Linked DNA regions of Homo sapiens. The protein of the gene in region 3 interacts with the protein of the main gene of each other region in a pairwise test. Each region holds a gene or a part of one and is shown on either strand. Other genes may lie near its edges.

Region 1 (3,655 bases), on a different chromosome or scaffold from region 3:
TAGAAAAATCAAATCCATATTTTAAATGTTAACCTTTTTTATCATGAGCAACTTGTCTTATTATAAAAGTAAGCAAAACTATATCACACAGAGGCAAAATAAAAAGGACTACATTTATACCATATTTATTTAAGATCTACTATTATCAAGAATTGTACTAGGCTCCACTGACATCAAGCACACAAGGAGTGTGTCATCTACCTGTGGAGAGACATACCAACAAAATAATTGGAGCTAACTAAATAAAAGCTGCTTGCTGACTAAACGTCATACTAACACTGATTCTTCCTCAAATTTAATCCAACTTCAAAACAAGAAAAACTGCAAGAGACAAAAAGTACTGCCATCGCAGACACAGGCACAATCTCAGACAGCATTTGAAAATTCCACTAATACCTTTGTGATTAGAAGAACCTCTTGGTTTTCCAAAATTTACAAAGTAGTAAATAGGATCAAATCTGACTATAGCAGGAAAGCCCACCCAAAAAAAACCTCTGCAAAGAAGGTCTCCTTAAAGCTTACCCATTTTGTTTGGATAAATCACTCTCAGACAACTAACTAAAAATAAATGTAGTTTCAAACCTCAATGGTAATTGTGTATTTTAATACACTAAATATAATCACATGTAATAACATAGTAATAAGCTTAAGTATTTTCAATTTTACCAGTCTTTAATCAATAGCCACAATAAAAATTAAAATAAAAATCTATGGCATAAAAATTGGTAAGTTACTAAATAAAATTCTAACAGTATCTAAATAAGTATCTCTGAAGTAATTATATACACTATCTGCCACTACAAGAAAAGGTATTTATGGCCTTTACTATGCTATTAAAAATAACTCGGTCCTGTTGAAGGTTACAGAATCATTAAAAAAAAAAAAAAAAGCAACTGCTTATAGATGGAAAATACTGGAATGTTTAAGGAACCCAGAATGAAAAAAATACAATCGAAGTCTCCAACAAGCTGTTGTTTTGCTGCTGTTTCACCCGTATTTGGTTCAATAATCACCTATTCAAATGACTATTATATCATCTACACATATTTTCAATAGTTTCCTTTTATCCATTAATTTTATCCAAAAAGGCTTCCAAGTAACTAATTGAAGTATATTACTGTAAGTATGCAAATCATCAAAGCTCATAAATATTCAGTCAAAAAGAAGCTGGCATATCTACAGCCATAACACCAAAATAAAATACCACACTTAACTCTATGGCACATACTCAACTTATTTTGAATTTAGTCCCAACAAAAAAGCAGGACAAGGAAAAAAAGTGTTAAGAAATTTTCTTCACCAATTAAATAATTTACATGACAGGTGAACCAAAAAAGCAGCTTGCTGAAAGTATTAATGTACTTAAAGAAGCAACAGGGTGATTGGGGAACAGATGGGGCTCCAAGATGTATAAATTCTTATCCCACTGGTACTTTAATTGTGTTAGTTATTTCAGAGCTATGTGTCTATATATTCTTTTATCAATATTCTTCCTTAAAATGCAGCTTTTCTTGGGAATTATAAATGCTCATCATTTTGGACAGCAAAAACATTACCTAATATATAACTTTATAATGACTCTCCTCCATGCCTTCAGGTTCTATTCTTGTTCCACAAAGTAGAATTTAATTATAAGGAATATATTTATTTTCAATGAAAATATTAGTAAACTGATATAGAGGCAGTTAAGGTGGGTTTCATTTATTTCACAAAACTCCAAATTTCTGTCCATGCAACTGTATTTTCAAATGATTTAATTACACATACTATCAGAAATGTACTTCATCAAAATACTTTCTTAGACCTTTAATGTGTAAAAATCACTTAAGAATACGGCAAATCCAAAAACATCACATCAAAAGTAAATTAAAAATTATTATAGGTAATGCTAGAAATACAGCTTTAACTGTATTTCTCAATGTCTTTCGGAAATTTCTATCCAAACATACCAGTTAGACATGTTGGACTCCAAACTCATTCCACTACCACCATAGTAACTGCAGCTGCCTCCCCTACCCCAACCAAAAGATAACAGCAACATTTACAGCTAGATTCCATATTTGAAAAGCATAAATCATTTTCAGTCCCACAAACTTAATCAGGTCCTATAGTACTGAGAATACTGTTTTTTTTCTAATTTATTTATTGTTTTAAAACAAGGTCTCGCTCTGTTGCCCAGGCTGGAGTGCAATGGCGTGATCCCAGCTTACTGCAGCCTCAACTCCTGGGCTCAAGCAATCTTCCCACCTCAACCTCCAAAGTAGCTGGGACTACAGGCATGTGCCATCATGTCTGGCTAATTTTTTAAAATTTTTTTGTAGAGACAGGATCTCACTTTGTTGCCCCAGCTGGTCTCAAACTCCTGTGAGCGAGCAATCCTCCCGCCTTGACCTCCCAAAGTGCTGGGATTACAGGCATGAGCCACCAAGCCCAGCCTCTTTTTTATTCTTAAATGTATTTTCTTTTCACCCTCGCCATCCTCAGCGAAAAAAATAGTATTTTCTGTCTGCAGTCTCTCTTCCTTCCAACTCATCATCAATAATACTCTCATCAGTTTTCTTTCTCAAACATATCATATCCCCTTCCCTTAAAAATTGTGAATGATCTCTGCTGACTAGAATTCAAAATCTTCATGTTTTGCAAGACTTTACCAATCTGGCCCAATCCTATGTTTCCAGTCATTTCCCTATGTCTAGCCCAGAACACTACCTAGTTTCCCAAACATGCTATCCGTCTAGTACCATTCTTTGTTGTTGCTGCTTTCTAAGCCTAGAATGCTTTTTCTCTACTCTTCCTGGCAATCTTGGAATGAAATCTTACTCACATTTCCAAAGGCCTAAATTTAAAATCTCCTCTGCAAAGACTTCAATTCCTCTAGATCAGGGATTAACAAATCTTTCCTGTAAAAGGCCAATAGTAAATATTTTAGGCTTTGTAGAGGGCCATAAAGTCTCTAACTACTCACTCTGCCATAGTAGCACAAAAGCTGCATAAAAGAAGGGGTGTGGTGGTGTACAAGCAGCAGCTGAATTTGGTCCAAAGGCTATAGTTGCTGACTTCTGTCCTAGACAAAATTACAATTTACCACATAGTACTATAGCCTGTTGTCACCTATATTTACATTGTAAACTCCCTGAAAGAAGAACCTTTTAGTAACTTTTAATTAAGTCTTCTTCCCAACCCCAGTACAGTACCTAATACCAAAAAATTCAGTGTTAAATAAGCAAAATGAAGACAATAATACAGTATTACAATCTCAATCAGCAATAATAAGTAGTACATGTCAAAAATAGTGTACAAACGTTTGACTTATGTTAGTCTTAAAGACACTAATTCCTAAAATATCTATGTTACTCACTAGCCTCAGGCTGTCTTGACTCTAAACTTAAATTAAATATATTTTAAAGCTTTTTTCCAGTACTAGGAAGAGTCTATAATAGTTAACTGCCAAACTTCATCCAGATATATCTGTGGAACAGTGTCCTTGGGTAGTTCATAAAACTAGGACTCAAATGTTATGATTTAGAATCATCTGTCCCAAAGTATAAAACATATTAATCTGTGGTCAGTGATTAGTTAAAAATAATCAACAAAAGGGGTAATACATAGTTCCTGAATGATTCCCAAACAGTAATACATTTTTATTTGACACCTG
Region 2 (3,655 bases), on a different chromosome or scaffold from region 3:
CTTGGTGGAGACAAAAGGGACCAACAAAAACAAATCAATAAAATTGTATAAAATGCTGTGGAGGAAACCAGAAAAGATCTGAGAAGTTACCATGCAGGGCAGTCTAATTGCATAACTTCAAAAGACCACTCTACCAGCTATGGAAAATAAAGCAGAAGTGAAGGGAAGTTAGAAAGCTCTTTATGGTAGTGAGAGGTGTTGGGTGCCTGGGCTATGATGGTTTATGGCCCCGGTAAGGATAGCAGGAGTGGAAATGGAAAACTGAATTGTAAGTATCCTTAGAAGTGAGCAAACAAGACGTAGCAGGAAGATTGGATTCCAGAGGAGAAGCAGTGAGAGAAAGGAACAAATCAAAGATGATTCTGAAGTTTTTTGTTTGAACAACTGTGTAAATGGTGGTGCTAGTTACTGAGATAGAAAATTGAGGGTTAGGAACAGGTTTGAGAGAAATTGAGTTCTGTTATGGACATTTAGTTTAATAAGAGACATTCAATAGGCATGTCAGATATGCTGTTGGATATGCACATCTAATGCTCAGAAAGATATGAGCTGCAGATACAAATGTGAGAGTTTATCTTGGTGTCCCCAGGCTGCCGTGAGAAAATACCATAGCCTGAGTGGCTTAAACTACAGAAATTTATTTTCTCACAGTTCTGGAAGCTCATCCCATGCCCATGGTGGGGCATATACCCATTTATTGGAATGGTAGGGTGACCATCTGCACTGTTTAAACTATTTTTCCCACTCACTTGGCTGACCATGTATACCTGAAGTGAATGTGCATGCTGCTCTAGTCTTTTTACCTCAGCACACTTTTTTTTTTAACCTCAGCACATTTACCTCATGCCCTTAGGTCAGTTCTACTCTCTCCCCTCAGGAAGACCTGGCCCAGAAAGCACTCTCTCCTATTCATCTCCACTCTCTGTTTTGAAGCATTTTGCTGAGGGAGAGTTAACTTATTCTTGGATGCTTGTCTTTAAGGGTTTTTTCTTTCCTCTCTTCTTTCCTAAAGTTACCCATGAAAAAAAATCTGTTTATCTCCTCCTCATTTCGTGAGCCCAAAAACTCAACTCATGGCTGATAAAGATTAAGAATAATATTACTGGTATCTACATCAATGTGTCTCAAATTTGAATAAATTATTTAGAGGTAAACATAAAATTAAAAAATTATATTGATAATTTCTGCAGATAGCTAGTGTTGAGTTATTCTATTACAATGTTACTTAAATATATACACACATAAAATAGGTTAAATTTCTTGTGCATGTAACTTTTATATAGCTCAAAAATCAAAACAACTGTAAAACCAATAATTAAAATTAATGACATTAATGTGGAGAGATGATGTTTTTCTGAAACTAAATTACCACTTGCACTGTAAAAATGATATTATGTGGTACAGGATTTTAAAATTTGGCCTGCAGTGACCAAGTCTCTAGTCACTTGTTTTATGATTGTTTAAAAAACAAAAACAACTTTCTTCTTTATAGCACACTGAGGACACTTGACCTTCATTAGTCACAAGCACATCATTTTTCTCTTAAGTGTACCACCAAGTTCTAGTTTTTGGAACTAAAGCAATCAAAATAAGCAATTACTTGGCAATACTTTTTTTTCTTTTTTTCTTTCTTTTTTTTTTTTTGAGCCAGGGTCTCGCTCTGTCACCCAGGCTGGAGTGCAGTGGCGCGGTCATGGCTCACTGCAGCTTTGACCTTCTGGGCTCAAGTGATCCTCTGGCACCCGGCTAATTTTTTGTATTTTTTGTAGAGATGGAGTTTTGCCATGTTGCCCACACTGGTCTCACACTATTGGACTCAAACCATCTGCCCTCCTCAGCCTCACAAAGTGTTGGGATTACAGGCATGAGCCACCGCGCCTGGCCGCAGTACCATCCTTTATAATAAAGGAGATCTAGAATATGCTTATCCTATTATTATTTTCTTAGATCATCACTGAAATTTCACTTCCCTTGGTTTCAGTAACCTGTTGTCCACCATGGTCTGAAAATATTAAATGAAAAATTTCAGAAATAAGTAATTTGTAAGTTTTAAATAACTTATTACAATATATAATTGTTCTATTTTCTTGTTAACCACTTACTGTGTGTCCAATTTATGAATTAAACTTTATCATAAGTATATATGTATAGGAAAAAACATAGTATATGCATATAGGATTTGGGACTATCTATAGTTTTAGGTATTCACTGGGGGTCTTGGAACCTAATCCCCACATATAAGTGGGGACTACTGTACTCAATTTTAAATGAAATGGATAAAAGCAAAAAGCCCTGTAATATGAGTGCTCAGACATTCCTTTTAGAGTCTTACGTCCATATATTTGCTTTTCATTTACTGTTTGATTAACGCCCCCACAATCAGTAAGACTTTGTATTAGCTTTTGGTTTGTTTTTGTTTTTGAGACAGGGTCTCACTCTGTTGCCCAGGGTGGAGTACGGTGGCACAAATCATGGCTCACTGTAGCCTTGAACTCCTGGGCTCAAGCAGATCTCCCACCTCAGTCTTCCTAGTAGGTAGGACTACAGGCACATGCTTCCACGCCTCGCTAATTTATTTTTTGTAGAGATGGCATCTCGCCATGTTGCTCAGGCTGGGCTGGATGGAACCCCTGGGCTCAAGCAATCATGAGCCACCTCACTCAGCCCTTTTCAAGCTTTCTATACATTTTAATGTGGAAATTTGTTGTTGTAAAAATGCATTTGTTCTCCATACTTTTGTTTTCTACCTCTTTTATCTTTGGCCCCTGGTAGAGGAAGAAAAAGTCCTGTTCAAACAGTGAAACTGGGCCGTGCACGGTGGCTCATGCCTGTAATCCCAGCACTTCAGGAGGCGGAGGCGGACGGATCACTTGAAGTCAGGAGTTCCAGACCAGGCTGGCCAACAGGGCGAAACCCCATCTCTACTAAAAATACAAAAAAATTAGCTGGGTGTGTAATCCCAGCTATTTGGGAGGCTGAGGCAGGAGAATCGCTTGAACCCCGGAGGCAGAGGTTGCAGTGAGCCAAGATCGCGCCGCTGTACTCCAGCCTGGGCAACAGAGCAAAACTGTCTCAAAAAAAAAAAAAGAAAAAGAAAAGAAACAGTGATACTTAAGGTTGTAGACCTTAGTTCTATTTTAATTGTAAACTGCTCAACCCTTCAAGCATCAAAAATAAATGCCCACCTTTTCCCCTTAAAAAAAAAAAAAGATTCATACTCTTCAAGGCAAGATTACAAGTTAATATAAAAGTCCCCCCTCCCCCACAAATTTTTTTCAATTTTTTAATTTTTTTTTTTTGTAGTGACGGGTTCTCACTTTGTAGGCCCAGGCTGGTTTCAAACTCCTGGCCTCAAGCGATCCTCCCACCTCGGCCTCCCCAAGTGCTAGGATTATAGGCACAAGGCACTGAGCCTGGCCAAGCTCTTTTGTTTTAATATCAGAATTTATATTAACATGTTATTTTGTTTCTTAAGGTTGGAATACACACCAAGGCTTGGTTTATTGCTGGAATCTTTTTGCTGTTGACTATTCCTATATCACTGTGGGTGATATTGCAACACTTAGTGCATTATACACAACCTGAACTACAAAAACCAATAATAAGGTATGTCTTAATAATTTTGATTCCACTACTGTTGTGTTGGCTTATTTCA
Region 3 (3,655 bases):
AGACAAGGTCCTGCACCCAGCACGTGTATATTCTAGGTTTCAGAGAAGCTATGTGAGGCTGTGAAGAGGATTCTTTTTTAATGTCTTTATTTTTATACTACCCCTCCACAGCCTTACCCCAATCTTTTAAACCACACCGGAAGCTATGTACTCATCGTTTTTTTCCTGTAATTTTTTTTACAGTACAACCTAAATAAATACTGGCCCAGAAAGATTCAGAGTTCAAAGAAAATTCAGCTGCTTTCGGAAAGATCATTCTATGGGAAAGATCACATTTCTGAGTAATAAACATTATAAATACATATTCCGATTTATTTTTAATTCTCAAACTATTAACTTTCATTTTTCCCCTCTGGCATATTTTAATTTTTGTCCTACAGGGACTTGAGTCTAAATATGTTTTAACAATTTGGGGGACTTTTCTTTTTTCACCTTGCTATTTCTAGAGACTAAAATCTTTGAGCTACCAAGGTCTTTCAAACTGGCTGATGTCACTCTAACAAACTCAGAGATAGCAAGATGTTCCTTAAGCCACTGGGTTAGAACGAGAATCCTTTGTTTTCTATGGGCACAATCCTAGGAATGTTTCTTCTCTTTTTTTTGAGACAGAGTCTCTCTCTGTCACCCAGCCTGGCGTGAAGTGGTGCCCTCTCAGCTCACTGCAACCTCCACCCCCCGGGTTCAAGTGATCCTCCTGCCTCAGCCTCCTGAGTAGCTGGGATTACAGGTGCACGCCACCACACCCTGCTAATTTTTGTATTTTTAGTAGAGACAAGATTTCACCGTGTTGGCCAGGCTGGTCTCAAACTCCTGACCTCAGGTGATCCACCCGCCTCAGCCTTCCAAAGTGCTAGGATTACAGGCGTTTGCTACCGTGCCCGGCAAGCCTAGGAATATTTCACTTCATGCTTTTCTCTTTTGCCTTGCTGTGAGCTTATCCTCCAGAGACAACAGAGAGAGAGAAAGAGAGAGAGACAGGAGAGAGAAAGTGGAAGAACCACATGACCAGTCATTTCCCGAAGCAAATGGCGTTTTGGGTGAATGCCCTGACCTAGGAGGGAAAAAGAGGCCAAGGTTACCCTAATGTTACAGAAGTAGCTAAGTGAATTCTTCTCCGAAAAACGTCACAGCAGGCTCTAGAAAGCAATTAGAGTAATATTTTGGCACCTCGAACTACCAAATAGAAGATTCCTCTACTGCTCTAGTTACATCTTTGATTTTCATTTCCCTTTGTTGTAAATACTTACAATGTCATTTCAGAATGCTGCAGAGAAATAGATGTGAGAGTAAACAAACTATAATAATAATCCTTTCTCCACATGCCATGGCAGCTGCAGGAGGAGGCCAACGCAGCACCGAACTTGCCTTACTGTCTGCTTTTCCTGTCCTCCTCCTCCTGCACCTCCTTCACCTCCTCCACCTCCTTCTCCTCCACTTTCCCACATGGTCTTTTATAAATTTGCCAGCATCACTGTGCAGTTTGCCAGAGAAACCTGGCCACTTGCTGGGTAAGCCTGCTCTTAGACCAAGGACCAGGGTAGGTCACTGCTGCTGTCCTCATTTCTGGGCCAGAAGGATTCACTGAGAGTGAGGTCCAGAACCACCTGCTTTCCCATTACAGAGGATGTGGATCTCTATAGAGACACTGCGTATCCCTTCAGTTAAAGCTCTTCGAAGACTCTTTTTACCCTGCGAGCTGAACTTTCTTGAGCCCCATAGAATGGATAAAAATCTTCATCCCCAGGTTGGTGAGGAGCCAATGATTTCACGCTCAAACAAGCTGACAAGCTAGGAATCCTAGCTTTCCTTAGCAGGCAGGAAACAGCATCCCACTCATAAGTCAGGAGTCTTTTCTGCCAATGTTAGGAATGTTGATATTTACCTTTATTTTTGGACTTATTTCTAAAAAAAATTAACTAGTATGTAAAAAAAAATCACACTTTAAAAATATGCTTCTACAATATTTGCTCTAGCGAACTATCTTTAGCTTGACCTAAATTACTAATTAAACTTTTCTATTGATCCAATTCCCATTACTGTTCCTGCCTTTATGCTTTCATATTCGGAAATCTCCAACATGCATTTTGATGGCTCCACCCCCCACGTTCCTCACTCCTGCCCCCTCATTTTGGTTTTGCTTTACCTTGTTAAGCACTTACAGATCATAAAATATGGGTGAGCTCAGAATATCTCTTACTCCAGTGTTACATATGGCACCCGCATTTCAGCACCAGCCCTTTAAAAAATGGTGCAGAATTTCAAGGAACTCAGCTACACTTTCCATTCAAAATCCCTCCCAAGCACTGTAGCTAAGAGCCTATCTCAGGATTTTCTTGAGAGCTGCTGGGGAGGCAAAATATCTATCTAACGAAAATGGCTCATCATCCACATTCTGCAGTACTGAGACTAATTCCCCAGCACTGCCAAACCTAGACTGCTGAACTCCCTCATCCAAACTCTCTAAGACTTAGTGGTCAAAGTGCCAAAGGCATCCGTCTTACTCACACTCTGTGGCTCCTAAGACCATGCTGAAAAGTGAGGATAAGTAATAATTGAAAGACATTTTTAGGATTCTAGTTGGGAGGATACATAATGCAGATACTATATAGTTTTTGTTTGTTTGTTTGTTTTTTGAGATGCTGTCTCACTGTGTTATCCAGCCTGGAGTACAATGGCGTGATCTTGGCTCACTGCCACCTCCGCCTCCCAGGTTCAAGTGACTCTCCTGCCTAGGCCTCCTGAGAAGCTGGGATTACAGGTGCCCACCACCACTCCCAGCTAATTTTTGTATTTTTAGTAGAGACGGGATTTCACCATGTTGGCCAGGCTGGCCTCAAACTCCTGACCTCAGGTGATCTGCCTGCCTTGGCCTCCCAAAATGCTGGGATTAAAGGTGTGAGCCACTGTGCCCAGCCTACTATATATTACTGAAGTTAGTAATTCATATTAATGCAAAATAAAAGGAGATTAGTGAATCACTGCTACGTCTGTCTTGTTTGGCCTGACAAGAAAAGTATCATAGAAGAGAAGGTGTGTTATGGGCATTGGATCAGCAAATAAGCTGAGGTCAAGCTTCCCTAAGTACCCACCAGCTCTGAAGGGGAAGTGACAGCTTGTCTTTGAGCCAGATTTAGGTTACATTTCAGTCTTAATTTATATCTAATCCATATCTAAACATAGAGAGAAATAAAATGCATTAGATTTCTGAGCCACCAAAGCCTGTTTAAAGGAAGACGGAGGAGGAAGGAGAAGAGGGCAATGACTTAGGGGCAAGTAATAGAAGGATTTGTTCTTTTATTTTATGCATTCTTTTATTCAACAAATATGTTTTGACAAGTAGGGGATACAGTGAACAAGGTAACTGGTTTTCTGTCCTTAAAGACCTTCCAGCCAGTTGTGGTGGCTCATGCTTGTAATCCCAGCACTTTGGGAGGCCAAGGCTTGTGGATCACCTGAGGTCAGGAGTTGGAAACCAGCCTGGCCAACATGGTGAAACCCTGTCTCTACTAAAAAAAAAAATACAAAAAAATTAGCTGTGCATGGTGGTGCACACCTGTAATCCCTGCTACTCAGGAGGCTGAGGCAGGAGAATTGCTTGAACCTAGGAGCCAGAGGTTGCAGTGAGATGAGATGGTGCCACTGCACTCCAGCCTGG

Evidence for each region.
Region 1: the proteins of SGK1 (region 3) and CETN3 interact in binary tests that used the Homo sapiens proteins (3 or more experiments, as listed by UniProt).
Region 2: the proteins of SGK1 (region 3) and TMEM184C interact in a two-hybrid assay, tested with the Homo sapiens proteins (one large-scale study listed by BioGRID and IntAct).

The regions. Positions count from the first base shown.
Region 1 is NC_000005.10:90,399,716-90,403,370, forward strand, and holds part of CETN3 (centrin-3), read right to left. Parts: intron 1-3,655. UniProt on the Homo sapiens protein: Plays a fundamental role in microtubule-organizing center structure and function. As a component of the TREX-2 complex, involved in the export of mRNAs to the cytoplasm through the nuclear pores.
Region 2 is NC_000004.12:147,620,359-147,624,013, forward strand, and holds part of TMEM184C (transmembrane protein 184C), read left to right. Parts: intron 1-3,475; coding exon 3,476-3,606; intron 3,607-3,655. UniProt on the Homo sapiens protein: Possible tumor suppressor which may play a role in cell growth.
Region 3 is NC_000006.12:134,307,973-134,311,627, forward strand, and holds part of SGK1 (serine/threonine-protein kinase Sgk1), read right to left. Parts: intron 1-3,655. UniProt on the Homo sapiens protein: Serine/threonine-protein kinase which is involved in the regulation of a wide variety of ion channels, membrane transporters, cellular enzymes, transcription factors, neuronal excitability, cell growth, proliferation, survival, migration and apoptosis.